Regions from separate parts of the Homo sapiens genome. Here region 1 is linked to region 2. Evidence: fine-mapped expression QTL. A gene starts in region 2. The other region holds a variant in brackets. All regions are shown on one strand. Distances are from middle to middle. Region 1 overlaps MAD1L1 (mitotic arrest deficient 1 like 1). Region 2 holds the start of INTS1 (integrator complex subunit 1).

Region 1 (15,907 bases), 320 kb before region 2:
GTATTGGCATAAAGTTGTTCATAATTTCTCTTACTATCCTTTTAACATCTGTAGGATCTGTAGTGCTATCATCCCTCTTCTTCCTGATGTTAATAATTTGTCTCTTCTCTTTTATTCCAGGTCAGTCTGGCTAGAAACAGCTTTGGGTTTTATTATTTCTACTGCTTTTTTGTTTTCTTTCACCATTGTTGCTTTGATCTTTATTTTCTTTCTTCTGCTTACTTTGTCTAATTTGCCCTTCTTTAGTTCCTTAAGGTCGAAGCTGAAGTCTCTGATTTGAGACCTTCTTTTTTTTAATGTGGACATTCAGTGCTATAAGTTTCCCCCTAGTTTCTGCTCTAGTGGCATCCCACAAATTCTGATATTTTGTTTTTATCTTCATTCAGTTCAAATGACTTAACTAACCTCCCTTTTGATTTCTTCTTTGACGTATGGGTTATTTAGAAGTGTGTTAGTTTCCACATTTTTTGAAAATCTCCAGATGCCGTTCTGTTACTAATTTCTCATTTAATTTCATTATTGTCAGAGAACATTCTCGGAACGGTCTAAATCCTTCTACTTTTTTTGGAGACGGAGTCTCATTCTGTCACCCAGGCTGGAGTGCATGGCGCAATCTCAGCTCACTGCAACCTCTGCCTTCCAGGTTCAAGTGATTCTCCTGCCTCCTACCTCAGCCTCCCGAGTAACTGGGATTACAGGCACGTGCCACCACGCCTGGCTAATTTTTGTATTTTTAGTAGAGAGGGGGTTTCACCATGTTGGCCAGGCTGGTCTCGAACTCCTGATCTCAGGTGATCCACCTGCCTCGGCCTCCCAAAGTGCTGGGATTACAGGCGTGAGCCACTGCATCTGGTCACATTTCTTGAAATTTGTTTTAAGGTCCATCCAGAATGTTACTGCCTTGGTAAATGTTGTGTGTGTACTTGAAATCTGTGTGTATCCTGTATCCTGCTGGAATGTGCTATATCGATGTCAAGTAGCTGACATTTTTAATAATGTTTGCGAAGCTTTTATATCCTTGCCAATTTTCTGTCTTCCTGTTCTATCAGTTATTGATAGATGAATATTGACATCTCTGACTATTATTACAGATTTCTCTATTCCTTCTTGCATTCCAGTTTTTGTTTCATATATAAATGGACGCTTTTATCATTATGAAATGACCTTTATTGCTAGTAATATTCTTTGCTCTGAAATCTGCTTTGTTTGATACAGAGTTGCACTGTCAGTAAGCAACCTTGGGTATATCACGCATTTGGTTCCAGATCACTGTGATTAAACCAATATCACAATAAAGCAAGTGCCATGCATTTTGTTTCCCAGTGCATATAAAAGTTATGTTTATCCTATGCTATAGTCTGTCAAGTGTACAATAGCATTATGTCTTTAAAAAACAATGTACATGTTCTGATTTTAAAAATACTTTATTGCTTAAAAATGCTAATGATCACCCGAACCTTTAGCCAGTTGTAATCTCTTTGCTGGTGGAGGTTCTTGCTTTGATGGTGATGGCTGCTGACAGATCAGGGTGGTGGTTGCTGAAGGTTGGGGTGGCTGTGACAGTTTCTTAAAAACACCAGTGGGCTGGGTGCTGTGGCTCAAGCCTGTAATCCCAGCACTTTGGGAGGCTGAGGCAAGTGGATCACTTGAGGCCAGTAGTTCGAGACCAGCCTGGCCAACATGGTGAAACCCTGTCTCTACTACAAACACAAAAATTAGCCGGGCATGGTGGCACGTACCTGTAATCCCAGCTACTTGGGAGGCTGAGGCATGAAAATCGCTTGAACCTGGGAGGTGGAGGTTGCAGTGAGCTGAGATCACATCACTGCACTCCAGCCTGGGCAACAGAGCACGACTCCATCCCCACCCCCCCCCCCCCCGCCAAAAAAAAAAAAACACAGCAATGAAGCTGGCCACATTGATTGACTCTTCCTTTCATGAAAGATTTCTCTGTAGCATGCAATGCTCTCTAAAACCATTTTACCTACAGTAGAACTTCTTTCTATCTTGGAGCCAAGCCTCTCAACCCCTCAAACTGCTTTATCAACTAAGTTGATGTACTTTGCTGTCATTTTTCAACAATGTTCACAGCATTTTCACCAGGAGCAGATTCCATCTCAAGAAACCACTTTCTTTGTTCATTCATAAGCAGCAGCTCCTCATCCATTCAAGCTTGATCATGAGATTGCAGCAGTTTAGTCACATCTTCAGGCTCTGCTTCTAATTCTAATTCTCTTGCTATTTTCACCACATCTGTCCATCTTCCTCCACTGACCTCTTCTTGAACCAAGTCATCCATGAGGGTTGGAACCAACTTCTGCAAACTCCTGTTAATGGTGATACTTTGACCTCCTCTCATAAATCACTGATGTTCTTAATGGCATCTAGAATGACAGCTCCTTTCCAGAAGGTTTTCAGTTGACTTTGCCCAGATTCATTAGAGGAAGCACTCTGTGACAACTATAGCCTTAGAAAATGTATTTCTTAAATAATAACACTTGAAAGTCAATTGTCCCTTGATCTAGGGGCCACAGGATGGATGCTGTGTTAGCAGTCATAGAAACAACGTTCATCTCCATCAGAGCCCAGTAACTAGTTGCATTGTCAGTGAGCAATAATATTTTGAAAGGAATTTTGTTTTCTGAGCAGGAGGTCTCAACAGTGGGCTTAAAATATTCAGTGCACTGTGCTACGTTTGAACAGATGTGCTGTCATCCAGGCTTTGTTGTTCCACTGATAGAGCACAGACAGAGAAGACTTAGCATCATTCTTAAGGGCCCCAAGAGCTCATTTACCGTCTCCATATTAGCAGTAAGCCTGTTCTGCTTTCTTATCATTCATGTGTTCGTTGGAATAGCCCTTGTGATTTCCTTTACGAACTTCTCCTTTGCAGGCTAGCTGTGTGGTGCAAGAGACCTAGCTTTTGGCCTCAGTTTTCAACATGCCTTCCTCACTAAACCTAATTATCTCTAGCTTTTGATTTAAAGTGAGAGACATGTGAGTCTTCTTTCACTTGAACACCTAGAAGCCATTCTAGGGTTATTAATGGGCCTGGTTTCAATATTGTTGTGACGGTCGTGTCTCAGGAAATGGGGAGGCCTAAGGAGAAGGAGAGAGATGGGGGATGGCTGGTCAGTGGAGCAGTCAGAACACACACATTTATCAGTTAAGTTTGCTCTCTTATGGGCACTGTTTGTGGAGCTCCGAAACCATTACAATGGTGACATCAAAGATCACAGATGACAGAGTACCATAAAAGATATACTAGTAATGAAAAAGTTGGAAATATATACGACACAGACATGAAGTGAATCCACGCTTTTGGAAAAATAGTGCCAATAGACTTGCCAGACACAGACCTTAAACTTGTAAAAAATGCAGTGTCTGTGAGGCACAGTCAGGCCACGGATGAAGCGAGGTGTGCTCATGTGAACACAGGGCGAATTGGCTTCTGTGAGCACGCTGTATCTGCTTCACGTTACTTTTAATCTACTGCGTCTTCATAGTTAAAATGTGCTTCTTAAAAGCAGGATATAGCTGAGTCTTAAATATGCATAGAATCTGACATTCTCTGCCTTTTCACTGGGCCATTTACATTTAAATTGATTACTACTTTGATTAGATAAGTCTATCATCTTGTTATTTGTTTTCTGTTTGTCCTGTCTGTCCTTTGTTCTTTTTTCTTCCCTCTTTTTCTGCCTTTCTTGGATTGAATTTTTTACAAGTTCATGTGCCTCCTTTTTTGATTTGTTAACTGTATTTTTTACAGGTTGTGTTAGGATTTAGGGCACGTAGATCTTTAACAGTCATCCTCGAATGATACGACACCGCCTTATGTGTAGTGTGAGAACCTGACAGTCACATACTTCCAGTCTTCTCCTTCCTGCCTTAGTCATCTGCTTATAATATATTTTATTTATGCACATGATAAACCCCACAATACTTTGTTTTTATTTCTGTTTAGTCAGCTATCTTTGAAAGAGATGTAAATAATAATTGTAAATGTTGTATATGTCTGCCCATGCAGCTCCCACCCCTCATTCATGGAAGGAGTAGAGCTGTTCTTCCTTCTTCTTGTGTAGGCCCATGTTTGTTTTTATTTTTATTTATTTTTTTTGAGACAGAGTCTCACTCTGTCGCCCAGGCTGGAGTGCAGTGGCACGATCTCGGCTCACTGCAACCTCCGCCTCCCAGGTTAAAGCGATTCTCCTGCCTCAGCCTCCCGAGTAGCTGGGATTACAGGGATGTGCCACTGCACGTGGCCAATTTTTGTATTTTTAGTAGAAACAGGGTTTCACCATGTTGGCCAGGCTGGTCTTGAACTCCTGACCTCAGGTGATCCTCCCACCTCGGCCTCCCACAGTGCTGGGATTACAGGCGTGAGCCACCGGCCTGGCCTGTTGTGTAAGCCCCTGTTTGCATCCTCATTTTCCTTCTGTCTGAAGGGCTTCCTTTAATATTCTTGCAGTGTGAATCAGCTGCTTTTTGGGATATTTTAAGCTCTTGCACACCTGAAGAAGTCTTTATTTGGGGGGAGATATTTCCACTGGGTGGAGAATTCTGGGCTTTGTCTTTCTGTACTTTACAGAGGTGATCTCACTGTCTTCTTAATTCCAGTATTTCCTCTGAGAAGTCTGCTGTCATTCTCATCTTTGTTCCTCTGTCGGTCAGTTGTCATTTCTTCCTCTGACTGCTTTTAAGATTTCATCTGTACTACTGGTTTTGAGCAGTTTGATTATGATGTACTTTGTGTACTTTAATGTTGTTTCCTCCCCCTGCCTTTTTTTTTTTTTTTGGTGGTTGGGGTTCTTTGAACTTCTCAGATCTCTCAGTTTACACTTTTCCACACATTTCAGAAAATTGGGGCCACTACTTTTTCAAGACTCTTTGCTGTCCCCACCACTGGCAACCAGTCCTTGAATAACATCGCTGCAGAACTCACTGGCTCGTGGCTTCTGGGGTCAGGAATCCAAGTGTGGCTGAGCTGGCTCTCTGCTCAGAGACCTCACCAGCCACAGTCCTCTTGGCTCTGCTGGGGAAGGTCCCACGTCCAGGTACACCCATGTGGCCGTCGGAAGGATTCTGCTTCTATCCGTGGTTGGGCTGCCGCGCTTGGTCCTATGGCAGCTCCTCGCCGTGTGGGCCGCTCACGCATGGCAGCTGGCGGGTCAGAGCTCTGAGAACCAGGGTGGGAGCCGCAGAAGTCACGGCTGCTGTGACGTGACTGCAGAGGGGAAGCCAGCACTTGCGCCCCACTTTGCATCCGCTGTAAGTCACGCTGAAGGGCTGGCGCTGATGCGGGTGGTGCCTGGAGGTGGGGACCATCAGGAGCCATTTCAGAAGTGCCACCAGCCTGCCTCCAGGACTCCTGCCCTACGTGTCAGGCCATGTGACGTCGCCCCACAGCCCACGCCCAATGTGCTGCCTCCTTTATGTCTGTCTTTCCGTTTTTTCCTTTTTGTTTGTATGCGCTTTTCTTTCTTTTTCTCATCTGTTTCATCTCGGACGGTTTCCGTGGTTGTATCTGCAGCTTCACTGATCCTGTTTTCGCCATGTCTGATCTGGCATGGATCCGTCCCCCGTACTTGTTGTCTTCATCCTTAGAAGGTCAATTTGGCTCTTTTTTGTCCCTTTTATGTCTATCCTCAATTTTTTGGGCATATGGAGCAAAGTTACAGTGACTTAATGTGATCTGCCGCTTCTGACGTCAGGTCAGCCCTAGGTCTGTTTCACTCAGCTGATTTTCTCTTTGTTGAGTGCTGCGAGGCTGTGTGTGCATGTGTGCGTGTGCCTGTGCATGCACGTGTGTGTGTGTTCCTATAAATATTCGTGAGCTCTGTTCGGAGACACAGTTCAGGTACTTGGAAACAGCCTGGTTCTCTGGGTCTCGGTTTAGGAAATGTGAGGTGGGAGCAGGGCAGCGTCTGTCTGGGGCTCACACCGCCCCTTGCTGCGGGGTGTCCATCTCAGTGCTGTGCCCTGGAGCCGCCTAGTTCGCAGGCTTTCCCGCGAGGCTGCCGGAGACAGGCACTGGTCCAGCCCAGTGTGAGCTTCGGGTGCCATTTTCTGGGTTTTTCTCTCTAATGCTCCAGGTTTTCTCAGCCTCTCACTGAGCACTCCAGCGAACTCAGCCCTCCTCTGTGGCACTCTTTTCGGCGCCCTGGCTCCAGCTCCAGCCCTGTCCCTCAACTCGGGTCCCGCGAGGCCCTGCCTGGGCTGTGACTGTCTCCCCAGGCTCGCCCCGTCTCTCAGGGCCCGCCACCCTTCCTGACTGAAAACTGTTGTTTCACATTTGATGCCTCATATTCTGGCTGTTTCAGATGGCAGGTGCATCTGTCCTTGTGGCTCTGTCTCGGCCGGAAGCTGCCGGCCGCCCTCTGAGGTGGGAAAATAGGCATTTTGTCTCCATTTTACATTCAGGAAACTTCAGCTCAGAGAGACAAACTGATGGGCCCCGGGGCCCACAGCACATAAGAGGGGCAGCCTCACAGGAGGGCGGGCCTGCATCTCCGGCCCTCCTCACCCCGCATCCCCAGCATCACATTGCCCTAAGCGTGGCGCTCCACGAAACGTCACTGCCAGCAGCATGGGCCTCGCCTGGGTGGGAGGTGAGAAGGCGCAGAGGCCGCTGACGTCCTCTCCTGTTCTCATTCGGCTACATCTGGAAAGGGTGGTGCTGTCTAGCCCGGGCCCAGGAGGGGAGGACCCCACACCCGGGACGGGCTCAGGAGGGGAGGACCCCACACCCGGGACGGGCTCAGGAGGGGAGGACCCCACAGCCACG[CAGG/G]GCTCAGGAGGGGAGGCCCCCACACCCGGGACGGGCTCAGGAGGGGAGGCCCCCACACCCGGGCCGGGCTCAGGAGGGGAGGCCCCCACACCCGGGCGGGGCTCAGGAGGGGAGGACCCCACACCCGGGACGGGCTCAGGAGGGGAGGATGCCACACCCGGGACGGGCTCAGGAGGGGAGGCCCCCACACCCGGGACGGGCTCAGGAGGGGAGGACCCCACACCCGGGACGGGCTCAGGAGGGGAGGCCCCCACACCCGCGACGGGCTCAGGAGGGGAGGACCCCACACCCGCGACGGGCTCAGGAGGGGAGGACCCCACACCTGGGCGGGGCTCAGGGAGCCACTGGGCGAGGGCTGTGCTGCAGCTCCTCCCTCCTCACCCGTGTGCCTGATCTGAGCACCTGTCCTCCCTGCCCGCTGCGTCCCCTTTCTTCCCTTAACCTTCATTGTGTTCTGTGCTCCTGCTGCCCTCGGGGCCAGTCCCTGTCTTTTAACCCACACTCAGCCCCTTCTCCCACCTTCTCCATCCCCGCCACCTCCTCTAACTCATCCCTGTGGCCTCCATGCCCTTCCACGGCCCTTGGAGCCGCCCGTGGCGGATGCCACTCACAGCAGGGGCTGCGCAGGCCGCCCCACCCCGAGCCGGCGCCCCCACTCCCTCGGCTCCCCTCCGGCTGCGGCTGCAGGAGCAGCTGCGTGTGGCTGTAAAGCAGAACGCCCGTGTGCGAGGGGGAGCTGTATAAATAGAATAATAATAATAATAATTGTTGGTTTGGGATTTTTCTGCGACTGCTGGGGTGCCTGGCCTTGCCCGCCCCGCCAGTCACTCTTGAAGGAAAGGTCACCCTCGCCGGGAAGATAAACCCCAATAACGCTGGTATAATTAGCACAGGCAGTATTTAGATGCTTTCCTCGGTACAATTAGGCAGGAATAATTGGCTGAGCTATTTTCCCCGTGCCGGACACACTTTTTGCCAGCTTCCGTTCTTTGGAACTTCATGCCGGGACATTTGTTCTCGGCGTTCTGTCCAAGCTGTCCTGACCCAGTTGCCGCCAGGCCCTCAGCGCGGTGCTCACGCGGCAGCATCTGCGAGGCCTCTTTTGGGCCCGGCTGTGTCGTCTCCCCCGAGGGACGCCGGAGGGACAGTGGGGCAGAGAGGGGTGGGAGCTGAGGGTCGTGCACACAGCAGGGTGTCCTGGGGTCAAACCTGGACCTCTGGACCAGGAGCTCCGCGGAGCTGAGCTGGGCTGGGCCTGGAGCTGGAGGGCTTGTGCAGGGTGGGGCTGGGCCGGCCATGGGCATCCATGAGGGAGTGAGGCCATGAGCGGGGGAGTCAGGCATAGGCTGTAACAAGTCCTGTGGCCAGCCTGGAGGAGGAGGCCCTCGGCCGAGGTAATACACCAGCAGCGAGAAGCTTGCTCTCTCCCTCCTCAGAGCGCGGACGGGCCAGGCAGTGACTGTCAGGGCTCGGTGGTGGCTGCTGCTCCTGGATCACCTTCGGGCCGTGGATGTGCAGCAGGCAGGCTGGCCCCACAGCACCTGAGACTCCTGTGCAGAGCCCAGCTGTGAGTTGTGAGGCTGCCAGGAGTCCTCGGTATCCCGGTCTAACAGGTTGCGTAGACCACGGTAGCACCAGCCATTTTCACGCTGTACCCGGCAGGCTCAGCACGGTCTTGACGTTATCACGCCTGAACTTTGGGATACAGATCACTGCTGCCGAGGTCATGAAGCCAAGCTGGGGCCGCGCCGACCTCCAACCCTGGGGCTGGGACCGTGCTGGCCTCCAACCCCGCCTGGGGCTGGGACTGTGCCGACCGCCAACCCTGGGGCTGGGACTGTGCTCATCCCAGGGCTGGGACTATGCTGACCTCCAACCCCGGGGCTGGGACTGTGCTGACCTCTAACCCCCAGCAGCACCTGCTGGGATGAGAGCACACATTACCCAGGTTTATCACCTCTGGACCCTGATGCCATGGTCCAAGGCCTTCAGCCCCTGAGACGTTTTAGGGAAGGGAGGGCAGCCCTGGCCGTGGAGGCTCGTGCAGAGCTGTGTGCATGGTGAGACTGCCCAGCACTGTTCACAGGCGCTCAGACGGGCACCGCAAAGACCCGTGGACAGAGCTGTGCCCCACCTGGGATTTGCACAAGCCCAACCTGGGTGCCCTGGCCGCTGGGTGCCGAGGGGCTTGGGCCCGTGTCTCTCACACCTCAGCAGCAGCCCTATGACAGGTAGCCTCAGCGGACTCTGCTGTGGCCACCTGACCAGCGCCACCCACCCCAACCAGCTGGCTGGGCTCACGCTGTGACCCACGCCTGGCGTCTGTGGTGCCACCAGCCAAGATGCCAGCCATGACGCCAGCCTGGCACCCCAGGCCCAGGACATCTGGGGCAGGTGGGTGGGCAGCACCGGCCTCAGCAGCCCACAGAGGGGCCTCCCACAGAGTGTCTGGAGACACTCCAGGCAGACGGGCAGATGAGCAAGACGCCCGAGGGTTGCAGGCCAGGTGGATAAGGATTGGGGCTTGCATGTGTCCGCAGTGGGGAACCCGTGTGCTCAGCGGCCTGTCTTGAAGCTGTTCCGCTCTTGCAGATATAATTTAGATATACATTTTTCCTAATTACAAATATGCAGCATATAAAAAAATCTGGAAAATGCAGAGAACCATGAGTCACTTTCCGTCCCAGCACTCCGAGTTAACCGCCATTAACATTTTGATTTTCTAAGAGTCCTTTTGCACTCTGTGAGTGTGGGTGTGAGAGTGTGTGTCGTGCTGCAGTGTGAACTTGAAGGGTTTTCTCACCCCTGAAGTTCAGGGCTGACTCTCGGCGGACGCTGCTGAGTCTTCTCCCCGGCTCGCCCCATGTGTGCATGAAAGTGCCTGGGACGCGTCAGATTCTCAACTTGAGACGCCCGGAGAGTCTTTTGAAGTTGAAAACACTTTGATTTCCTGACAGCCTCAAGACAAAAAAAAATCTCCCCTTCGCTGGCTTTGAGAGCAGGTGTATTCTACAAGCGAGGTTCACAGGGACCTATGGCTGCCCCGGCAGATGCCATCCAGGCACGCCCCTCTCCTCTCCCGCGGGTCCTGGTGGGGGAGCCTCTGTGGGAAGCCTGGGGGCTCCGGGGCCTGGCAGACAACCAGTCCTGCTGCAGCGAGGTGGGGACAAGGCCGGGAGCAGCTCACTTCCCAGTAGAGGCCATCCGATGGCGCCAGGGCACGGGGCAGCTGCTGTCCTCATGGCCCGGGGTAACGTGGGCACAGGGTTTCCTCATCCCACTGTGCTCTGTGTCTCCCCTGAGCCCGGTGATTTTACGCACCTGACTTCGTTAGTCTTCTCGGCAATGCCCAGCGTGCAGACCAGGCTCAAGAGAGGTGTGTCGGTGTGCCCAGGGTCACGCAGCTTCCTGGTGGCCAAGCCGAGGTTAGAAGCTAGTTCTGGTGGGTGCGAAAGCCCCCGATGTCGGCAGCTCTGCCACCAGGCCCGCACAAGCAGGTGGTGTAAGAGGGGAGGCGTTGGGGCCGGCAGTGCTCAAGTCAGGATTGAGCCGTCTATCTGGAAGGTCTGTTGAGGGTGTGTGCTGGTGGCCGGGAGGTGGTGGCAGGCTGACTACCTGCCATTTTCCTGCAGTGCCTAGGCCCAGGAGAGGGAGCAGCCCCCGGTCAGGACCCAGCTGCAGGACACCCCATCCTCATGGACCTTGCTTCCCGCTCTCCGTCCCCCCACAAATGGGCTCCCAGCATAACTTCCCCCGAGGGCTCCTTTCCTCTCCCCACACAGAGCCCTGCTCCGGAGCGGCGCTTGCAGCACACCAATGACAGGAGGATTGGGCTTCAGGGAAGCAGGCGCCTGGAGCTGTGTCCAGTTAGGTGCGTGGCGCTTGCAGATCCAAGCATGAAATATTCATGCCTCCCCCGGCCCAGCAGCTGCGGCTTCTCATCTGGAACAAGGGGGTGCTTCTCCCAGGAAGGCCAGTGGGAGCAGGGGTGTGTCTGAGAATGCCTGGGCGCTCTGCCCTCACGATGGCCGCTGATGCCACAGGCCCGGCCTCTGTGCCCAGGCCACTCTCCAGCCTGGTGAGGTCTGTTCTGGGAAAAGAGAGAAGCAAGACAGATGTGGGCCTTGCCCTGTGGGGCCAGGGCACAGGCAGGAATCCCACTTGGGGTTAAGACGCTGCAGTCACCCCTCCAGGTGCCAGGGTCCCCTGTGGCCGTGGCGTTCTAGGAGAGATGGGCAGGGAGACGCTGGCGCCCTGTCGTGTAGCTTATCCTTGTATCTGCTTCACAGGCTCTTCCACTGTGCAATTTCCTAAAATTTTGGCGAGGCCCATTTATCCATTTTAATTTTATTCTGTGGATTGTGCTTTGGTGTTGAGTGTCAGAGCTCTGCCTCATCCAGATCCTGAAGATTTCTTTTTTAACATAATTCTGTGTTTTACATGTAAGTTCGTGATACAGTTTGAGTTAAATTTTATTTGAGATGTGAGGTTTCGGTCAAAAAAATTTTTTTTTAACTAAGTGTGTCCAGCTCCTCCGGCTCCAGCTGTAGCAAAGACAAGGCTGCCCTTCCTCCACTGAAGCGCCTTTGTGACTTTTCTGTGACTTTTCCGTATCGATTAATAGGGTCATATGTTGTTTATTCTTTAGCCTGTTGATATAGCAGATTACATTGATTGATTTTCAAATACCAAGCTAGCCTCGTACACCTAAACGAAGTCCCACTTGGTCACGGCATAATATTCTCTGTTAGAAAGTGGCCTGGACGCGTCTGTGGGTCTCTTTCGAGTTCCTCTGTTCTGTTCTGCTGGTCTCCACATCTCCCCTCCAGCGCTGCCCCAGCCATGTCTGTCTGACGTAGGAGCCGTATAACGCTGTGCTGTAGCTGTACGGTTCTCAACATCAGGAAGGGCAATTCCTCTACTCTTCTTTTTTGGAATTGCTTTCTATATACATTTTAGAATAATCTTGTGTCTCTCTACCAAAAAAAAAAAAAAAAAATGCTGGCCGGGCATGGTGGCTCACGCCTGTAATCCCAACACTTGGGGAAGCCAAGGCAAAAGGATCGCTTGAGCCCAGGAGTTGGGAGACCAGCCTGGGCAACACAGGGAGACCCCATCTCTATGAAAAAAATACAGCCATGAGTGGTGGTGCGCACCTGTAGTTACAGCTACTTGGCACGTTGAGGCAGGAAGATTGCCTGAGGCTGCAGTGAGCCAAGACCACACCACTGCACTCCAGCCTGGGTGACAGAATAAGACCCTCTTTCCAAAAAAAAAAAAAAAATATATATATATATGCTGAGGTTTGGACAGCAATTACCTTAAAACCAAAGATCAATTTTGGAAAAATTGATTTACTATAAGTCTTCCAGTTCATAAACATTGTATCTATTTATACAAACATTCTTTTTATTCCTTTCGATTCCTTTCATCAGTATTTCCTAACTTTCTGCAAACAGACACTATACAAGTTTTTGTTAGATGTATACCCGAGTATTTAAGATGTTCTGTAAATTATATTGCCTTTTAATTTTGTTTTTCACTTGTTTGCAATTGCTTTATAGAAATGTGGTTAATTTTTGTATGTTCATCTTATTTCCTGCAACCTTCGTGGACTCACTTAGTGTTCCAGGAGTTTTCTGCAGATTGCTCAGGATTTTCCACGTGGGCCGTCACGTCATTCTAGGAGTTTTCTGCAGATTGCTTAGGGTTTTCCACGTGTGCCGTCATGTGATTTCCGAGTAGGGACAGTTCTGTTCTTTTCCAATCCCTATGCTGCTGCTTTCCTTTTCTTACCTGCATGCCCTGGCGTGAGGAGCTCCCATGCTGGGTTGAGGATGAGTGGGGAAAGCCAGCTCTCCGCTGACCGAATGAGGGAAGGCGGCCAGACTCTTCCGTGAAGCAGCGTGAGCTGAGGGTTCTTCGTGGTGCTTTTTACCAAGTCGGAGGACTTTCCCTTGATTCCTGCTTTGCAAGAGTTCTTGTCAGGAATGGAGATTAAATTTTTTCAAATGCTTTGCCTGTGCCAATAGGATCATATCATTGTCTTCCTTTAGCCTGTTGATAGGGTGGATAACATTGATTGATTTTCAAATTTGAACTAGCCGTCGTTGTACACCTAAACTGAATCCCACTTGGTCAGGGTGTGATACTCTTTTTCGTGTGTTGCTGGATTCCATTTGTTAGTCCTTGTTGAGTATTTTTGCAGCTAAGCTCATGAGAGACTGATACTTATTTTTCTTTGTGTGCGCACCATCCTTGTTGGTTTCAGTACAGGGTTCATAGTGGAAAGGTGTTTCTCTGTCTTTTGTTAACTGAAAAAGGATTGTGTAAAATTGGTATTAATTCATATTTAATGTTCGGTAAAACTTTCTAGTGAAACCATCTGGGACTGGAGATTTTGAGTAGCATTTTAATTAGAACAAACTTGATTTATTTAATGGTTATAGGACTACCGAGGCTATTTTATCTTGGCACGTTTTGGTAGTATGTGGTTTTCGAGGAATCCATCCAGTTTGTTATGAGCATCAAGTTTTGTTGTAGTATTTTTTATTGTTATTTTAATAGCTTCTGGATCTATTATAATATTTCCATTTCATTTCTGATATTGGTCATTTCACTCTCCCCCCCCCCTTTTTTTTTTTTTGAGATGGAGTCTCGCTGTGTTGCTCAGGCTGGAGTGCAGTGGCACGATCTCGGCTCACTGCAAGCTCCGCCTCCTGGGTTCATGCCATTCTCCTGCCTCAGCCTCCCAAGGAGCTGGGACTACAGGCACCCGCCACCACACCCGGCTAATTTTTTGTATTTTTAGTAGAGATGGGGTTTCACTGTGTTAGCCAGGATGGTCTTGATCTCCTGACCTCGTGATCCGCCCACCTCGGCCTCCCAAAGTGCTGGGATTACAGGCGTTCCCCCTTTTTAATCTTTGTCAGTTTTGCCAGGGGTTTATCAATTTATCGTTGCTGGTCTTTCTAACAAATTTTTGAGACAGGGTTTCACTCTGTTGCCCAGGCTGGAGTGCAGTGGTGTGATCATAGCTCACTACAGCCTCAAACTCCTAGGCCCACGTGATCCCACATACCTGGGGCTACAGGTGTATGCCACCACACCTGGCTGATTGATTATAGGGATGGGGTCTCACTGTGTTGTCCAGGCTGGTCTCAAACTCCAGGGCTCAAGTGATCCTCTCACCTTGGCCTCCCAAAGTGCAAAGATTACAGGTGTGAGCCCTGCTCCTGGCCGGCCTTATTGCTATTTTTTAAAGAAGCAGTTTTTGGTTTTAATAACTTTTGTTTTCCTGTTCATTCCTACTTGTATTATTTCCTCCTCCTGCTTCGGGCTTGTTTTTCCCTTCGTTTCTTGAAGTAGGAATTTAGAGAAGCGATTTGAGATCTTTCTCCTTTCCTGATACAGGCATTGAGTGCTGTCCGTTTCCCTCTAAGCACTGCCTTGGGTGCGTCTGGCAAATTTCATTATGCTGTATTCTTGTTTCCATTCTGTTCTCTTTTTTATTTCCTTCGAGGCATCCCATTTGACTCGTGGATTACTTAGAAGTGTGCTGTTTAATTTCCAGGCACTTACAGTTTTCCTGTTGTCTTTCTCTGACTGGTTTCTGGTTTTGATGTCCACTGGTGTGGCCTCCACCTCTTCACGCCACCCCACAGATGAACAGCATTCACATAACTTCCCAGTATCTCGAAGTAGCATCGTTTCCATTTCCTGCGTGTCTTCTCATTTTACTGCATTATTTCAGCTTTCCTTGTTTGAGCCAGGATTCAGGGCTTCCTTCATTCCATCTCTAGCTTCCTCCCCTCGAGTTTCCCAGTTCATGGAGTTTCTCTTGGACCCTCAGCAGCAGGGGGTCTTGTTCTTGACAGGAATCCCTCACACTTCCCCCTTGGCCTCCGAGCCCCACCACATCCTGCGGTTGGTGGTGTGTGGAGAAAGTGGTGTGTGGAGAGAGTTGGTGGTGTGCGCTGTCTCTGCTCTCCAAGCCCTTTGTCAGCCCCCACCCCTCCCTCACTCCGTGCCTCTTGTCCGTGCCCGCTGGGACACCATGGGGCTCGGCTCAGGGGATGGTGGGACCAGCGCTTAGTAAGACTAGTCAGCCCTAGGCACCGAGTGAGCACTGCTCACGTGGCAGAGCTGGAATGGGGGCCGGGCACACAATCCCTGGCCCACGTGTTCCACGGACATGCTGCAGAGGTCCCCGGCCCTCCAGGGCAGGCCCTCTCTGCTTCCAGAGGGGCAGGTGAGCCCCAGGCCAGGCCAGCGAGGGTCTGGACTAGAGTGCAGTGGCCACAATGGACGCCGCGAGTGTCTTCATTAAGAGTGAGTGTCTCAGTCTCCCCCAGGGCGCCCGCCAGCCACAGGGCCGCTATGTGCGCAGACTAGACAGGTGGCAGCTCGGGCCGGCCAGGCAGAGGGAGAGGAAGCCAGAGCCTGCGCGCAGGCAGCCTCAGAAGTATTTCCAGCCACAGCCAACGTGTCTTACTGGCAATTTGCTTTTTAAAAAATTGCAGTTTAATTTTAAGTGAGCAGCCCGTAATTACAGTGATTTACGAGGTACCTGGGGACTGTGTGATATTTGAACATGGCAGAGGGCTGAGCAGCGATGGCAGAGATGGATGGGCCCGGCGCCACTCATTCAGCAGGTCCTGCTAATGCCGGAGCGTTAGACCGAGGTGGAGCCTCCCAATGTGGCTGGGTACGCTGGGGGAAACGGAGTCAGAGGTGGGCTGCACAGCAGGTCGACTTGTTCACCGGGGGCTGGTGTTTTGCAAACGCTGGGTCTGCCTTCGTGTGGGGTTTGAGCTGGGAGAGTAGCACTGGTTACTCCTGCCTGTCTCCGTCCACCCCCACCCCCACCTGGAGGGCAGCGCGGTATATTAGGGCATCATTCTTCCAGAGCCGCCTGAGGCCGGCAGAGAGGAGGTGCTGTAGGAGCCGTGAGTGGGTTGCCCGGCCTACCATTGGGAGCAGCTGTCTTGCTGACGCTGGCGGGGTGCACCTGTTTCAAATAAAGAATGATCAGAGCTCACGCCTGTAATCCTCACGTCGTGGGCAGCTGAGGCAGGAGGATCACGTCAGGCCAGGAGTTTGAGACCAGCCAGGCCAGGA
Region 2 (15,907 bases):
CACGTGAGCCCAGGAGGTCAAGGCTGCAGTGAGCTGTGATCATCCCACTGCACTCCAGCCTGGGCAACAGAGTCAGAGCCTGTCTCTAAATTTAAAAAAAGAGAATCAGGACCGCCATGTCACGGAGACCAAAGGCACAAAGCACTGGTGCTCTGTGTGGCCACAGGACCGGGCACTCCGGGGGGAGCCACTGAGGTCCTCAGAGCGGCGCCTGTTTCAGGGAAGCGCCTGGCGCTGGAGCGAGTGGAGAGGCGTGTGGACGGCGGGGAAGTGGAGTTGTGGAGACAAAGCTTGGGGCTCTGGGACTCAAAGTGGGGAGGCCGGGGGCTTGGACCCGGGAAGGAAACTGAGGCAGAGAGGGGCATGTTTGTGTTATAGGAGACCCTGGAGCTGGCCTGAGGGGCCCTGGGAGGGAGCCCACAAAGAAGGGGCCGTGAGTGCACAATCTGGGGAAGGGGCAATGGAAGCCGGAGGTTTGAGGGGTGGGCCCAGAGGACAGGCGGGCAGACCCAGCAGGGGTGGTTTTCACTGCGGGAGGAGAGAAGTGGGGAGGGCCTGAGATCCGAAGCAGGTCACAGGAGACATGTTGGGGGTATGGGCCTCCCAGAGTCCTTCCCCTTCCTCACGGCTCCCGATTCTCTTTGTTGGTTCACCTCTCTCCTGTGCAGCCTGGGGGTGGAACCGGGACTGGCCCCCGCTCTTTGAAGCCAAAGGGTCTGAGCTCTTCCCCGGTAGACCAGGTACCCTGAGTCACGGCACAGTGGTCAGCGAGGTCCAAGCTCTCCCCAGTAGACCAGCCGTCCTGAGTTTCAATGTGGTGCCCAGCGAGGTCTGAGCTCTCCCCGAGGAAACCAGCCATCCTGAGTCTCAGTGCGGTGGCCAGTGAAGGCTGAGCTCTCACCAGGTTGGCCAGCTGTCCCGAGTCTCAGTGTAGTGGCCAGTGGCCTGACCGGTCCTTGGGATACCTGGAATTCTGGACGTGGGTCTGTCTTTGGGGCTGCACCCTATGGGAGCCCCATACAAGGTTGGGGTTCCAGCCAGGGGGTGGTAGAGAAAGTGGGCGCCCAGGTTCCTAGCAGGGGCTAGCCTGGGGGTGGATGGGGAAGGAAGGCTTCAGGGAGGTTCAGGGAGGAGCCGGGGCTGGGCCCCCAGGATGGGGGTCACTTGAGAAGAGCCGCAGGTTCCCCACAAGGGCCCCTGTGTGTAACGGGAAGGCCAGGCCTGGTCTGCGCTGGGTACGCTTGGTCCAGGAAGGGAGGCTGGAGCCCCCGGTCTAGGCCCAGGCTGCACAGAGAGCGGCAGCTGCTTCCTGGCACGAGGCAGTTAAACCACACGCAGCTGCAGGCTGCCCACCGCACCCGTCTCCCCTCGGGCCCGACCCGGGCCTCTGCTCCCCCTGCCCCCACCCTGCCAGCCGCCCCCAGCCCCTGGTGCTGGTGGGTCTTGGGGGGCCGCAGTGGTGCCCTGGAGCCCAAACCTGCCACACTGATCAGGTCACGAGGTTGGGTCCTGCTAGGACAGGGTCACCTTTGGTACTCACTGCACTCTGGGGTCACAGCAAAGAGGACCCCGGGATGGTGGGAGTCAGAGGCTTGGGCTTGCCTGCCCGACGGCGTCCCTCCAGGCTGAGGCCCAGCTCTCCTAACAGCCTAGGCTTTTAGCACTGGCTTCCTCCCCCCAGAGAATTCACAGTTATCACTTACCTGTCCACGGGCTCTCACTGAACATGGCGAGCCACCCTGGACCCAGCAGGGGACTGGGCAGATCAGGCTCTGCTGGTGGCTCTGTCAGGCAGGAAGGCAGGGAAAAGACCAGCCAGGGGTGGGCGTGCACCTGTGGTCCCAGCTACTTGGGAGGCTGAGGCAGGAGGATCGCTTGAGCCCAGGAATTTGAGGCTGCAGTAAACCATGATCACACCACTGCATTCCAGCTGGGTAACAGAGCAAGACCCCGTTTCTAAAACATTTTTTTAAAAGACATGAAGGAAGGGCCAGGCGCGGTGGCTCATGCCTATAATCCCAGCACTTTGGGAGGTCGAGGTGGGTGGATCACCGGAGGTCAAGAGTTCAAGACCAGCCTGGCCAACATGGCAAAACCCCATCTCTACTAAAAATATAAAAATTAGCTGGATGTGGCTGAACGTGGTGGCTCACGCCTGTAATCCCAGCACTTTGGGAGGCCGAGGCAGGCAGATCACCTGAGGTCAGGGGTTTGAGACCAGCCTGGCCAGCATGGTGAAACCCCATGTCTACTAAAAATACAAAAATTAGCTGGGCATGGTGGCAGGCGCCTGCAATCCCAGCTCCTGATGGGGGCTGAGGCAGAATTGCTTGAACCCAGGAGGTGGAGGTTGCAATGGGCAGAGATCACACCACTGCACTCCAGCCTGGGCGACAGAGCAAGACTCTCAGAAAAAAAAAAAAAAAAGCCAGGCGTGGTGGCAGGTGCCTGTAATCCCAGCTACTTGGGAGGCTGAGGCAGGAGAATCGCTTGAACCCCAGAGGCGGAGGTTGCAGTGGTCTGAGATTGAACCACTGCACTCCAGCCTGGGTGGCAGAGTGAGACTCCGTCTCAAAAAAAAAAAAAAAAAAAAAAGACATGAAGGTGACATCCAGGTGCAGGGGACTGGGGCATCAGTGACTGACCAGAGAAGGAGGCCACTTGAGCAAAGACCAGAATGGGGTGGACAGGGAGTCCCAGGACCAGCTGGGGGGTTTCTGGGCACAGGAAACAGCGCATGGAAAGGCAGGCACCTTCCGGAAACAGTGAGAAGGCTGAGGTGCGGGGTGGGGCGGCATCGGGGGAGGTGAGACGGAGATGTAGACCCTGCAGGACCCGGCAGTCCTCGGCGTGGGGCTGGGACGGGGCGAACAGTGGCCCCATAGCCCACGTCCACCGGAGCCACAGGATGGGAGCTTATTTGCAAACAAGGTCTTTGCAGATATAAACTTATTTTTTTATTTTATTTTTTTTGAGATGGAGTCTTGCTCTGTCGCCTAGGCTGGAGTGCAATGGTGCGATCTTGGCTCGCTGCAGCCTCCATCTCTCAGGTTCAAGTGATTCTCGTGCCTCAGCCTCCGGAGTAGCTGGGACTACAGGCACCTGCCACCACGCCCGGCTATTTTTTTGTATTTTTAGTAGAGATGGGGTTTCACTGTGTTATCCAGGATGGTCTCGATCTCCTGACCTCGTGATCCGCCCGCCTCAGCCTCCCAAAGTGCTGGGATTACAGGTGTGAGCCACTGCGCCCGGCCTTGGATAATTTTTTTCTATTTTTAGTAAAGGCAAGGTTTCGCCATGTTGGCCAGGCTGGTCTCGAACTCCTGACCTCAAGCAATCCGCCCGCCTCAACCTCCCCAAGTGCTGGGATGACAGGCGTGAGCCACCGCACAGGCCTAATGAAGGTAAAGATCTTGAGATGAGATCATCCTTGATCTGGGTGGGCCCTAAATCCCTTAACAGATGTCCTCACGAGGCACAGAGACACAGAGAGAAGACGGCCACATGGAGTCAGAGGCAGAGGCTGGAGGGATGTGGCCACGAGCCGAGGACCCCTGGAGTCCCCAGGAGCTGGTCGAGGTAGGCAGCGTCCTCCCCTAGAGCCCTCCGAGGGAGTCAGCCCTGCCCACACTTTGACTTCAGACTTCTGGGCTCCAGAACTGCAAGAGAGGACATTTCTGTGGCTTTAAGCCACCGAGTCTGTGGTGCTTTGTTAAGAGCTGCTGTGGGAAACAACCACAGGTGTTCATTTTACTGTTCGGGTGATAAGCAGAGTCTTTGGAGAATTCTGAGCAGGGGAGGAACATTTGATTATATCTTTTTGTTTTTTTGTTTTTTTTGAGATGGAATCTCGCTCTGTTGGCCAGACTGGAGTGCAGTGGTACGATCTTGGCTCACTGCCACCTCCACCTCCTGGGTTCAAGTGATTCTCCTGCCTCAGCCTCCCAAGTAGCTGGGACTAAAGGCACCCGCCACCACGCCTGGCTAATTTTTGTATTTTTAGTAGACATGGGGTTTACTATGTTGGCCAAGCTGGTCTCAAACTCCTGATCTCAGGTGATCCGCCTGCCTCAGCCTCCCAAAGTGCTGGGATTAAAAGCCACGGCACCCGGCCTAAAAATTAAATTTCTAATAATTTTTTTTTTTTTGAGACAGAGTCTCACTCTTGTCGCCCAGGCTGGAGGGCAATGGCATGATCTTGGTTCACTGCAACCTCCGCCTCCCACGTTCAAGTGATTCTCCTGCCTCAGCCTCCCAAGTAGCTGGATTACAGGTGTCTGCTACCATGCCCGGCTAATTTTTGTATTTTTGTAGAGACCGGGTTCCACCATGTTGGGCAGGCTGGTCTTGAACTCCTGACCTCAGGTGATCCACCCGCCTCGGCTTCCCAAAGTGCTGGGATTACAGGCGTGAGCCATCGCGCCTGGCCATAAAAAATATTTTCAAAAAGTGAGCAAACAATTTGAACAGACACCAATAATGCAGATACACGGATGACAAAAAAAGATGAGAAAACGCTCATCATTACTCATCAGGGAGACGCCGATGAAGAGCACAGGGCAGACCCTGCACACCCCCCCAGGATGACGGAACGCCTGTGGTCCTGCCCGGGCCATCAGTGGAGAAGCCATCCTTGGAATCTGGAATCCATCTGGCGGGTGCTACTCAGCAGCTGACAGAAGCCACCGATGCCTGCAACGCTGGGGTAAGTCTCAGAATAATGATGCCAGGCCGGGCGCGGTGGCTCACGCCTGTAATCCCAGCACTTTGGGAAGCCGAGGCGGGAGGATCACGAGGTCAGGAGATCAAGACCGTTGTGGCTAACACGGTGAAATCCCGCCTCTACTAAAAATACAAAAAAAAAAAAAAATTAGCCGGGCGTGGTGGCCAGCGCCTGTAGTCCCAGCTACTCGGGAGGCTGAGGCAGGAGAATGGCGTGAACCCAGGAGGCAGAGGTTGCAGTGAACGGAGATCGCGCCACTGCACTCCAGCCTGGGTGACAGAACGAGATTCCATCTCAAAAAAAAAAAAAGAATAATGACGCCGAGCAGCTGGCCAGGGAGCGTGCACTGTGTGCTTTCATTCACACAGACTCCAGAAGAGCAAACAGCGCCTCTCCAGGGACAGAAAGTGGCGCCCTGGCGGCCTGGGGACAAGTCAGGGGTGGTTTGGGAATGTTCGTTACAGGGTTGAAAGGGATGGGGGATGGGGCCACAGGTACGTGTGAATGTCAACACGCATCAGTGTGCACCCTTTACACCCTTTACACACCTGCAGTTTATCAGACGTCAATCATAACTCAAAAAAGCTGTTTTCAAAAAGAGGCGGGGAGAGGGAGGAGGAAGGCAAAGAGGTAGAGGAGGGGGAGGAAGAGGAAGAGGGGAAGGAGACGGAGGAGAAAGAGAAGAGGGAGGAGGAGGTGGTCAAGGTTGACTCCTGAGTTTTTAGAGAACGAGGAAGACGAGGAGCAGGAGGAGAGAGAAGGGGGAAGAGGTGGTCAAGGTTGACAGGAGGAGGAGGAGGAGGAGGAGGAGGAGGGGGAGGAGGGGAGGAGGGGGAGGAGGAGAAGAAGGGGAACGAAGGGGAGGGGGGAGGGGGAGGAGGGGGAGGGGAAGGAGGGGAGGGGGAGGGGGAGGAGGAGAGGAGGGGGGAGGGGGAGGAGGGGGAGAAGAAGGAAGGGGAGGAGGGGGAGGAGGAGGGGGAGGGGGAGGGGGAGGGGGAGGAGGAGGTAGTTGTTCTCAAGGTCGACCCTGAGGTTCTGGCCTGGGCCCGGGTGAGGGCATTTGCCGAAGGCACAGGCCCCGCATGCAGGGGCGGTGATGCTGGTCAGAGGATGAGGAGAGGCAGGTGGCGGGGCAGAGGAAGCTCTGTGCAGGGTGCTCCCATTCAGGTGACAGGAGGAGGAAGCATTACCCCATCGGATCTCCCCTCCCCTTAGAGAGTTACCCTGAGGGACAGATTGAGAAACTGTAGAGGGATGAAGCCGCACAGCCCCCGCCTGGCGTCCGGCAGGGATCCGCGCCTGACCGGCCTCTCCTCCCATGGGCACCACGGACGTCTCCTTCCGGACTCGCTGCCCACACAGCGCAGGGTGCAGGGCCCTGGAGCCCTTGGGGTCCTGCGGGGACCCAGCTGGTGCCCACAGGAGTGGAAAGAGACCGTGGCGGGTCACACAGCAGTTCTCAGGCTGCAGCCTGGGGCCATGAGCCTCACTGAGGCCACAGTCAAATGGCCACACCCAACTTCAGGGGCACAGGGAGACCAGCTCTGCCTTGCGGTCCCTGGATGAGGAGATGGGACACACCGGGCAGGCGGTGCTCAGGACTCCCTCGGTGGCGGGGCAGCGTTCGAGTCAGTGCCCTGCTGGGAACAGATCTCCAAGATGTGGTTAAGTGGCAAAAGCCAGGTGCAGAAAAGAGGAGCCGTGCGCTACCTGCAGGGTGACAAGGCAGAGGGAGGCACACGGGTGGCTGCCTGAACGCACACGGAAAAGCCGGGAACACAGGCACAAATCAGAACACAGGCTGACTCCAGGGGAGGGGACCAGCTGCTCAGGGGTCAGGGGAGACCTTCGACCCTTTGACTGGATGATTCCCCCACCTTTTATTTTTATTTTTTTTTAGACAGGGTCTCGCTCTGTCGGCCGGCTGCAGCGTAGTGGCACCATCATAGCTTACTGCAGCCTTGACCTCCCAAGCTGAAGAGATCCTCCTACCTCAGCCTCCTCAGTAGCTGGGACCGTAGGCATGCACCACCATGCCTGGCTAATTTATTCTTGATTTTTGTTTGTAGAGATAGGGTCTCACTATGTTGCCCAGGCTGGTCTCAGACTCCCACTTTGGCCTCCCAAAGGGCTGGGATTAGAGGTTCATGCCACCATGCCCAGCTAATTTTTATTTTTTTGTAGAGATGGGGGTCTTGCTATGTTGCTCAGGCTGGTCTCGAACTCAACCGATCCTCCTGCCTTGGTCTCCCAAAGTGCTGAGATTACAGGCATGAGCATCACACCTGGCAACTGTATGATCTTTTGTGTCTTTTGAGTTTTGTTCCCATCAGTGTTTCCATTAAAAAAAAAAAAAAAAAGGCGTGGGGGCGGGGCGGGCGCAGTAATTCCAGCACTTTGGGAGGCCAAGGCGGGCGGACCACCTGAGGTCAGGAGTTCGAGACCAGCCTGGCCAACATGGTGAAACCCCGTCTCTACTAAAAACACAAAAAAATTAGCCAGACATGGTGGCGGGCGCCTGTAATCCCAGCTACTCGGGAGACTGAGGCAGGAGAATCGCTTGAACCTGGGAGGTGGAGGTTGCAATAAGCCGAGGTCGCGCCACTGCATTCCAGCCTGGGCGACAGAGCGAGACTCCGTGCCAAAAAAAAAAAGAAAAAAGAAAAGGGTGAACTTTGTGGAACACGAGTTCTATCTCAATAAAGCTATTATTATTATTATTATTATTATTTGAGACAGGGTCTCTCCCCGGGAGCCCCCCGGGCTGCGCCCCCTCGCCAGTGCCTGCGCCCCGGCCGCCCCCGCTCTCCGGGACGTGCAGAACCTGCCACTTGACTCATCCGCGGATCCCTGACGCCACTCCTCCCCGCCGTGCGTCCTGGAGTGCGTCCCTTCGCAACGCCAGCACCACCTGTGAATGGAGAGGCCAGCGCCTGCCCCGCGCCGCCGACCCACCTGGACCGGACCACATGCGCGCGGCGCCGGCCAGCCCGCCTCCCGCCGCCATGGGGCGCTGCAGGCATCAGGCCGGCGCCGCGGGCCTCTCGCGCCTCCTTCTGGGCCCGCTTCCCGCCGCACTGTTTTCCTTCCGGTTGTTCCGGAAGTCGGGTCCTCGAGGGCGGTGAGATCGGTTTCCGATTCCGGGGTGGCCGGGTGGCGGCGGCGGCGCTCCGGTCGCGATGGGCCAGAGGTAAGTGAGCCGCGGCCTGGGCGCTTCCTCATTGCCGGGCGAGCGCCTGGTTCTCCCGGCTACCGCTCCCGGCCTCTGGGCCGTCCCTTCTGGTTCTGCCGCCTCCAGCCCGGCGTCCGCGTCGCCTGCTGCCGCCCGACTGAGCCGCTCCCGGGCGGCTGGGAGGCGGGGTCCCTGCAGCTCCTGCAGCATCGCCCCGCCGGGCGGGCGCGGGACCACTGTCCCCGGGTCCCAGGCCCAAGCCCCGTGCGGCAAGGGAGCGAATGAGCGAGCGAACGAGCGAATGAGTGAAGGAATGACCGCACGCTGGCTCCTCCGCAGGTGACGCCGCAGCCGCCGGGAGCCGCGAGGGACGGGGCAGGATGAACCGGGCCAAGCCCACCACGGTGCGCCGGCCCAGCGCCGCGGCCAAACCCTCAGGTGCGTCTCCCTCCTCGCTCTGCAGCCCGGGGGTCTTTGGGGGTCTTTGGGGGTCTTTGGGGATCTCAGCTGCCGCGGATCCTGCGTTGGGCTTGGTTGTTCCGCAGCCGCGGCTGTTTCCAGGAATTCGGTCTGGAAACACTGCTCTCGGTCCTCAGCGGCTCTGAGAGTCCCTGGGAGGCTTGGGACAGTGGCGACTTCCTTCGGGACCCCGGTGATCTCGTTTCAGGCTGAGCTGCAAGGCGGCCGACAGTAGCGGAAGGTCTCCCCAGCCAGGAGGCGGGAGGCAGCACAGTGTAGCGTAGCACGGGGTCTGCGGCTGAACTGTCGGCTCAGATCCTCCGGACTTTGCCACTCGCCTGCTGTGTGACGCTGGGCACGTCGCTTAACCTCTCTGTGTCCCTTTCTCTCTTGTAAAGTTAGAGTAATAGCACCTATTGCGGAAACTCGGGGCGGGGGTTACTAAGCACACTAATTTGGATAGACCAGAGATGGCCTGGTTTGTGGTTAGCGCTACGTGACTGTCCACCATCACCTGTGCGTATCCTGCTGGTCCCAGCTCTGCTGTAGGCTGCTGAGTGAGCTCTGGCTTCTTCCTTGCCTCCTCTGACCCTTGTTTAATCCCCTCTGACATAACAGGAGGTTAGAGTCAGTCTTTTTCCATCTTGGGTGTTGCAAATGTGCCCGGTTTTCTCTCTCCTTTCTCTGCAGGGCACCCTCCCCCAGGAGACTTCATTGCTCTGGGCTCAAAGGGTCAGGCCAATGAATCGAAAACGGCGTCCACCCTGCTGAAGCCAGCCCCTTCCGGCCTGCCTTCTGAGCGCAAGCGGGATGCGGCGGCCGCGTTGTCCAGTGCCTCGGCCCTCACCGGTCTCACCAAACGCCCCAAACTCTCCTCCACACCCCCTCTGAGTGCCCTGGGGCGCCTGGCTGAGGCTGCAGTGGCAGAAAAACGAGCCATTTCTCCGTCGATTAAAGAGCCATCTGTGGTGCCAATTGAAGGTAATGAGTCTGTGGACATCCCCCGAGAACACCCCTCAGCTCATGCCGTCCATCAGGTGTTCAGGGAAGGCCCCCTCCAGGCCTAGTGCTGCCCGTATGGCCGAGGTCCTTTGGGAGAGCGGATGTTTGTGGCTTGTTCTTGGAAGTGCTTCTCACGTAGATGCCCTTATCCCGTGTGTGCATCTGCGTCCTGCACTGCCAGTGGCTGCCCTTTGAGAACCGGGTCACTCCCTTATTGAGTTGTTTGTCTCATGTGTCTGTTGGACGCCCCCTTTGTGACGGGCACTGTCTGAGCCCTGGGGGTAAACCGGGCGTGACGACACCCCAGGTGTCTGTTCTCAAGGTTGCCCATCCTGGTGCGTTCCTCTCTCAACCTGAGCGGAGGCGATGTGTACTTGGTTCCTCCTTCCCTCCTGGTTACCAACAGAGAAGAGTTGATCCCCTCCCTGTTTTCAGTTGAAAAGCAGCAGAACAGTAAGGACATCAACGGGGGAATGTAAGCTTCACCACTGTCCCGTTCTCGCAGAAATGCCTTTAACTGTGTGCCTAGAATCGCCCCTGCCCCTCTGCGCCATTTTCCCAACGACCATTTCTCAAGGCTCCGTGACTCCCTGGGAGTCGCTCTGGCAGCTATCGCACCAGCCCCAGCAAGCCTCATGGTCTGCAGTGTTTTGTTTCTGTGGGAGCATCTCTTTTGGGTAATTTCTTTGTAGGAGTCAAAAAGAACAAGTGTCCTGATGACTTTGGTAGTGAGGTGTCTGTTCAAGCCGCGCCACCTCTGGTTACTGAGTTTTGTGCCAGACAGGACCCAGGGGACTTGTGGGCTGTGGCCTTGCCCTCAGGGAGGGACCAGGCTGCTGCAGTGCAAGCCTGTGAGTGAGTCCCCGACGGCCCTGGAAGGGAGGAGGCCTGGCAGGGAGTTGCAGTATGGGCTTGGGCCTGGAAGCACAGGCGATGAAACCGGGGCAGGCAGGAAAGGGAGATGCCAAGCAGAGAATGGACTGTGCCCAGGGAATGGAGGCCTGGCCTGGCCTGGGCAGCACACGCTCATGAGAGCTGAGGCTGGGCGCTGTGGGCAGTGTTTGTGCTGGACTCAGTTGGCATCAGGGAGCCCTGGGGGCAAACGGCCCAGGATGGCACAGCTGGGGGACTGCTTTAGGAGGTCGAGCCTCAGACCTCCCATGAGGCGTGTCCCTGGGCAGCTGGTGCCGGTGGGGATTGAAGACAGAGACCACAGGCCTCATCCTGGCCCGGGCTCTCGGCCGCCGGCGGCTCGGTGCTTTATTTATCTTTAGCACTACCTCCTGTAGAAAGGAGGTTTTGAAGATGAGAGGAGACGTGGTTATGAAAAGCGTATTCTGAGTGGTAGATCACTTTATAGTATTATTCTCAGCAAAACAGAGAGATGGCTGCATCCAGCCATTTGTGGTAAATGTCCCAGGCTGTCCCTCCATGCTGGCAGCCCACTTGTCCCCCAGCTTGTCTCGGCATCAGGAAATTTATTCCAAGTCTCTGTCCCGGGCGCAGTTAAGGTAGATCACAATGCCTCTGTCCACATGTGTGTGGATATGTATTTACTTATTATTTATTATTTATTTATTTATTTATTTTTTTTTGAGACAGAGTCTCGCTGTGTTCCCCAGGCTGGAATGCAGTGGCACGATCTCGGCTCACTTCAGCCTCCGCCTCCCGGGTTCACATGATTCTCCTGCCTTAGCCTCCCAAGCAGCTGGGATTACAGGCATGCACCACCACGCCTGGCTAATTTGTGTATTTCTAGTAGAGACAGGGTTTCACTGTATTGGCCAGGCTGGTCTCGATTTCCTGACCTCAGGTGATCCACCTGCCTCAGCCTCCCAAAGTGGTGGGATTACAGGTGCTAGCCACTGCACCTGGCCGTTTGTGGATATTTAAAAACACAGTCCTAAAAAACTGTTGGGACAGAGAAGAATCAGAATGAAAATGAGAAAACCTCCGATCCAACAGTGGCAAACACGACGATAGGAAAGGTGTGTGCTGGCCCTGGTGCTCCTCAGAGGATGTGGGAGGGTCAGGCACTCGTCTGGAGGAAGGTTGTGAGCCGAGCACCCATGGAAAGAGGGAGGAAAAGTGGGAAGAAGGGCATGCTGGAGACTGGAGCTGGGGTGGGTGCGGAGAGAGGGCCACTGTGCTGCGGTCCACAGTGAGAAAGAAGCCGCCAGACGGAGCCACGATTCAGTGGAAAGTAAAGCTGCAGGTGGCCTGGCTTGCTGGGAAATGTCTGTAGCCTTTGGGGTAGTCGTGTGGGACACAGCGGAGCCAGGACTGGAGTGGCTGGTGGGCTAGTGCTGAGGCCTGTGGGGCAGCCTGTTGTATTAAGGGGACCATCTGGTGGGGTGCTTGTCCGCTGTGGGAACTTTGCTGAGGGTGGATCGCTGGTCCCTGGCAGGGCCGACCCTGAGAGCTCTGGGTTCCTCGTGGTCTTCCCGGTGTCCCGAGGCTTTGGGGTGACCCTGCCCTGGCCCCGTTCTGACCGTACCGCCTGCCCCGGCCAGTGCTGCCCACGGTGCTGCTGGATGAGATCGAGGCGGCCGAGCTGGAGGGCAACGATGACAGGATCGAGGGCGTGCTGTGCGGGGCCGTGAAGCAGCTGAAGGTCACCCGCGCCAAGCCTGACAGCACCCTCTACCTGAGCCTCATGTACCTGGCCAAGATCAAGCCCAACATCTTCGCCACTGAGGGCGTCATTGAGGTTTGAGCCGGGCCCCTGGCAGGAGGCGAGCAGCGCTGGGGCCCTTGGCTCCCCTCCTCACCTCCCCCTTAAGTGTCCCTCCCGGCCCACCCCAGCTTTGCCTCTGGGGCCAGCGAAGCTCCCACGTGACATGCGCCCTCCCTGGCAGGCTCTGTGTAGCCTCCTGCGGCGGGACGCCTCCATCAACTTCAAGGCCAAGGGGAACAGCCTGGTGTCTGTGCTGGCCTGTAACCTCCTCATGGCCGCCTACGAGGAGGACGAGAACTGGCCCGAGATCTTTGTCAAGGTGAGCGTCCTCTCCCGGGACGGTGAAGATGGCAGAGCGCCACGGGGTGGGGCAGGGGCGAGAGAAAAGCAGAAGTGTGTTCTCTCCAGAGGGCTGTGTCTGACAGCCCTGGTGGTGATGGCACGGTCCCTGCTGCACCCAGAAGCTGGAGAGGGCCGCCTGGGCACCCAGTCCCCGGGCAGCAGGCGGGTGTTCCCCAACCTGGCTGCTGCCCGGCTGGGCTCGGGGCTGAGGGTGTGGCTGCCACACAGGTGTACATCGAGGACTCCCTGGGGGAGCGGATCTGGGTGGACAGCCCTCACTGTAAGACGTTTGTGGACAACATCCAGACGGCCTTCAACACCAGAATGCCCCCCAGGAGCGTGCTGCTGCAGGGGGAGGCGGGCCGCGTTGCGGGCGACCTGGGTGCAGGTGAGACACACGGCCAGCCAGAGAGGGCGGGTGTCCAAGCCCCAGGGCAGGGGAGGGGTGGGAGGATGGGCGGGTGGGAGGCGCTGCATGGAGCCCTCTCCTTGGTTTGCAGGGAGCAGCCCACACCCCTCCCTCACGGAGGAGGAGGACAGCCAGACGGAGTTGCTGATCGCGGAGGAGAAGCTGAGCCCCGAGCAGGAGGGCCAGCTCATGCCCAGGTAGCTGCGTGCCTGCCCGGTCCCAGTTGGGGGCGGCGGGGGCGGGCGCCTCGGGGCCACCTTCCTCCCTCCTCGCTCCCTCCTCTGGCCTAGGTACGAAGAGCTCGCGGAGAGCGTGGAGGAGTATGTCCTGGACATGCTGCGGGACCAGCTGAACCGGCGCCAGCCCATCGACAACGTCTCCAGGAACCTCCTGCGGCTCCTCACCTCCACCTGCGGCTATAAGGAGGTGCGGCTGCTGGCGGTGCAGAAGCTGGAGATGTGGCTGCAGAACCCCAAGGTGCGGGGGCGCCCCGGGGGGGTGGGCGGGGCAGGGGGTGGGGGCAGGCTCTGTGTGGCCCCACAGCGTGGTCTTCCTGCCGGGGTGGCCGTGAGCCCACTGCTCCCTCCTCGGCCCCGCAGCTGACCCGGCCGGCCCAGGACCTGCTGATGTCCGTCTGCATGAACTGCAACACGCACGGTTCCGAAGACATGGACGTCATCTCACACCTGATCAAGATCCGCCTCAAGCCCAAGGTCCTCCTCAACCACTTCATGCTGTGCATCAGGTGCGTGGCGAGCCGGGGCAGAGCGGGGGTGCGGGTGGAGTGGGGGTGTGGGTGGGGGTGTGGGCGGAGCGGGGGTGCGGGCGGAGTGGGGGCACAGGCGGAGTGGGGGCACAGGCGTAGCGGGGACAGGGTCTGTACCCTCACCTCACCCAGGGAGCTGCTGAGCGCGCACAAGGACAACCTGGGCACCACCATCAAGTTGGTGATCTTCAATGAGCTCTCCAGCGCCCGGAACCCGAACAACATGCAGGTCCTCTATACCGCACTGCAGCACAGCTCAGAGCTGGCGCCCAAGGTAGGCCCAGGGTCCCTGGCCTTGCCCTCCACGCCGGAATATGGGGCTCTGGGCTGGAGGGGCACGTGGCGTCTGGGGAGGCCGGTGGATTGGCAGTGCTTCGTGGGAGAATGCTCCTCGGTCTCGGGAAGGAGCTTTTGAAACTCACGTGGGCATGAGGTTGAGCCGTTTCTAGAGTGGGTGCAGCCACAGCGCCCAGCGTCTTTCTCAGAAACTGACACTCTGTCCATTTAGGAGGGAGCCACATTGAGTCTTAAAAGCCACCCAGGTTTCTGAGCTAAGACCCAGACCTGTTGCCTTCTGTTTTTATTTTTCAAGCTCATTCCTGCCTTTGGATAGTAAGGTAGTTTTTAAAAATTTTGTGGAGACCGGGTCTTATTATGTGGCCCAGGCTGGTCTCAAACTCCTGGGCTCAAGCGATCCTCCTGCCTCAACCTCCCAAAGTGCTGGGATGACAGGCATGAGCCCCTGTGCCTGGCCCAGACCCGCCTCCTGTGCATTGGGTCCCTCGGTTAAGCAGGGGTCCCTGTAGCCCTGGCTGTAGGACCCTTGGATTTCCGTGTCTCCTTTGAAGCGGGCTCGGGAGATGCTCCCATCGCCACCAGCGCATTAGGCCTCCCGGTGGGCTCTATGGAGTGTGAAACACGAGGGAGGCACAGCCGCTCTCAGCTCCGCGTTCAGTCTTCGCGGCCTGGCATTTTGAGACAGGAGTGCGTCCTTTCAGATCCTTTCAGATCTTGGGTGGTGGCCTTTGGTTTCCGTTCAGCCCGTGGCGCACGGGTGGGCTGAGATGGCACACGCGCTTCTATGGCTTTGCCGCCTGGTGTCCCGCACCCCCAGCTTCCGTTAATTAATCCTCCTCATTTCACGAGGACCGACTCCCCACCTGCCGGTTCTCAGAGAGGGGAATCAGATGTGATCCCTGCTCGCCAAGGGCTGGCAGCCAGTAGAGCAAGGAGCCCGCCACCCCGCACCCCACACTGTCTGAGACCCACTGCAGCGCCCTCGGGCGCCATACCTGTTGGTGCTGCGGGAAGGGGCCTGTGACAGGGACAGCACTGTCGGGCAGCCTCCCACGCGGCCTCTCTCTGCCCCAGTTCCTGGCCATGGTGTTCCAGGACCTGCTGACCAACAAGGACGACTACCTGCGGGCCTCGCGGGCCCTGCTGCGGGAGATCATCAAGCAGACCAAGCACGAGATCAACTTCCAGGCCTTCTGCCTGGGGCTCATGCAGGAGCGCAAGGAGCCGCAGTACCTGGAGATGGAGTTCAAGGTGCCAGCCCTCGCCGCTGGGGCGCCTTTCCCTCACTGCGGGTTCCACGCGCCGCCATCCCCCTCGTCCTGGGTCCCATGCACACTCCACCCCTTCGGATGCTCTGGCTGAGCGTGGGTACGGGGATGAGTGAGGCTGTTTGCGGTGACGCGTCCCAGAGGGTAGCATAGGCTCTGTCCTGTGTGAGGACCTATGAGGGGCTGACCAAGCACAGGGGAACTGGCAACCCCTAGGCTGGATGGGATGAATTGCTGCCGGCAGCAAGGGGAGCACGGGAGCAGGGAGGCAGGGTGGGGCTGCGGGCTGCCTGGCTGGGTTGGAGACTTTTCGAGGGCTGTGGAGGGAGCTGGCGCTGGAAGGCACAGTGAGGGTGGATCACAGAGATGCCAGGTCCCTGCAGCCAACTCGCAGCCAGCCTGCCGGGGTGGCCTGTTTTGCGGACGGGGCTTTGTGGATCTCTGTTGACTGAACCTCCCTCCTGTGGCCAGACTAGGACCTTGTGGGCCACCGGCCCTGGTGCCCCTCCTGTCAGGCCCCTCTCCCAACTGGTCCTGGGCTCTCTCTCTGGATCCCTGCTTGTGTGTGTGTATGTGTGCGCATGTGCAAGTGTGTGCGTGCTGCACCCACGTGTTTGTGGAGTGGGGCTCCCGGGTGTCCCTTCTGGATACAGACCCCGTGCCGCGCCCACGTGGGTGTGGAGTGGGGCTCCCGGGTGTCCCTTCTGGATACAGACCCCGTGCCGCGCCCACGTGGGTGTGGAGTGGGGCTCCCGGGTGTCCCTTCTGGATACAGACCCCGTGCCGCGCCCA

Evidence for each region.
Region 1: its variant is fine-mapped to the expression of INTS1 in monocytes after interferon gamma (Fairfax 2014, PIP 0.95).

Annotation. Positions count from the first base shown.
Region 1 is chr7:1,818,607-1,834,513 of GRCh38, reverse strand. All of the region lies in intron 18 of MAD1L1 (mitotic arrest deficient 1 like 1), which reads left to right. Among named protein-coding and RNA genes, the nearest start is that of MIR4655, 18 kb to the left of the region's middle. The variant CAGG/G (reference allele first, on the strand shown) is at 6,785.
Region 2 is chr7:1,496,329-1,512,235 of GRCh38, reverse strand. It overlaps INTS1 (integrator complex subunit 1), which reads left to right and starts at 7,847. Exons shown (of 48, transcript NM_001080453.3): 1 at 7,847-7,913; 2 at 8,235-8,333; 3 at 9,045-9,335; 4 at 11,870-12,066; 5 at 12,215-12,352; 6 at 12,604-12,763; 7 at 12,876-12,981; 8 at 13,075-13,261; 9 at 13,384-13,529; 10 at 13,683-13,824; 11 at 14,922-15,098. The coding sequence starts at 8,276. RefSeq lists silencers at 1,353-1,402, 7,642-8,201 and enhancers at 5,563-6,158, 6,344-6,533, 6,159-6,755.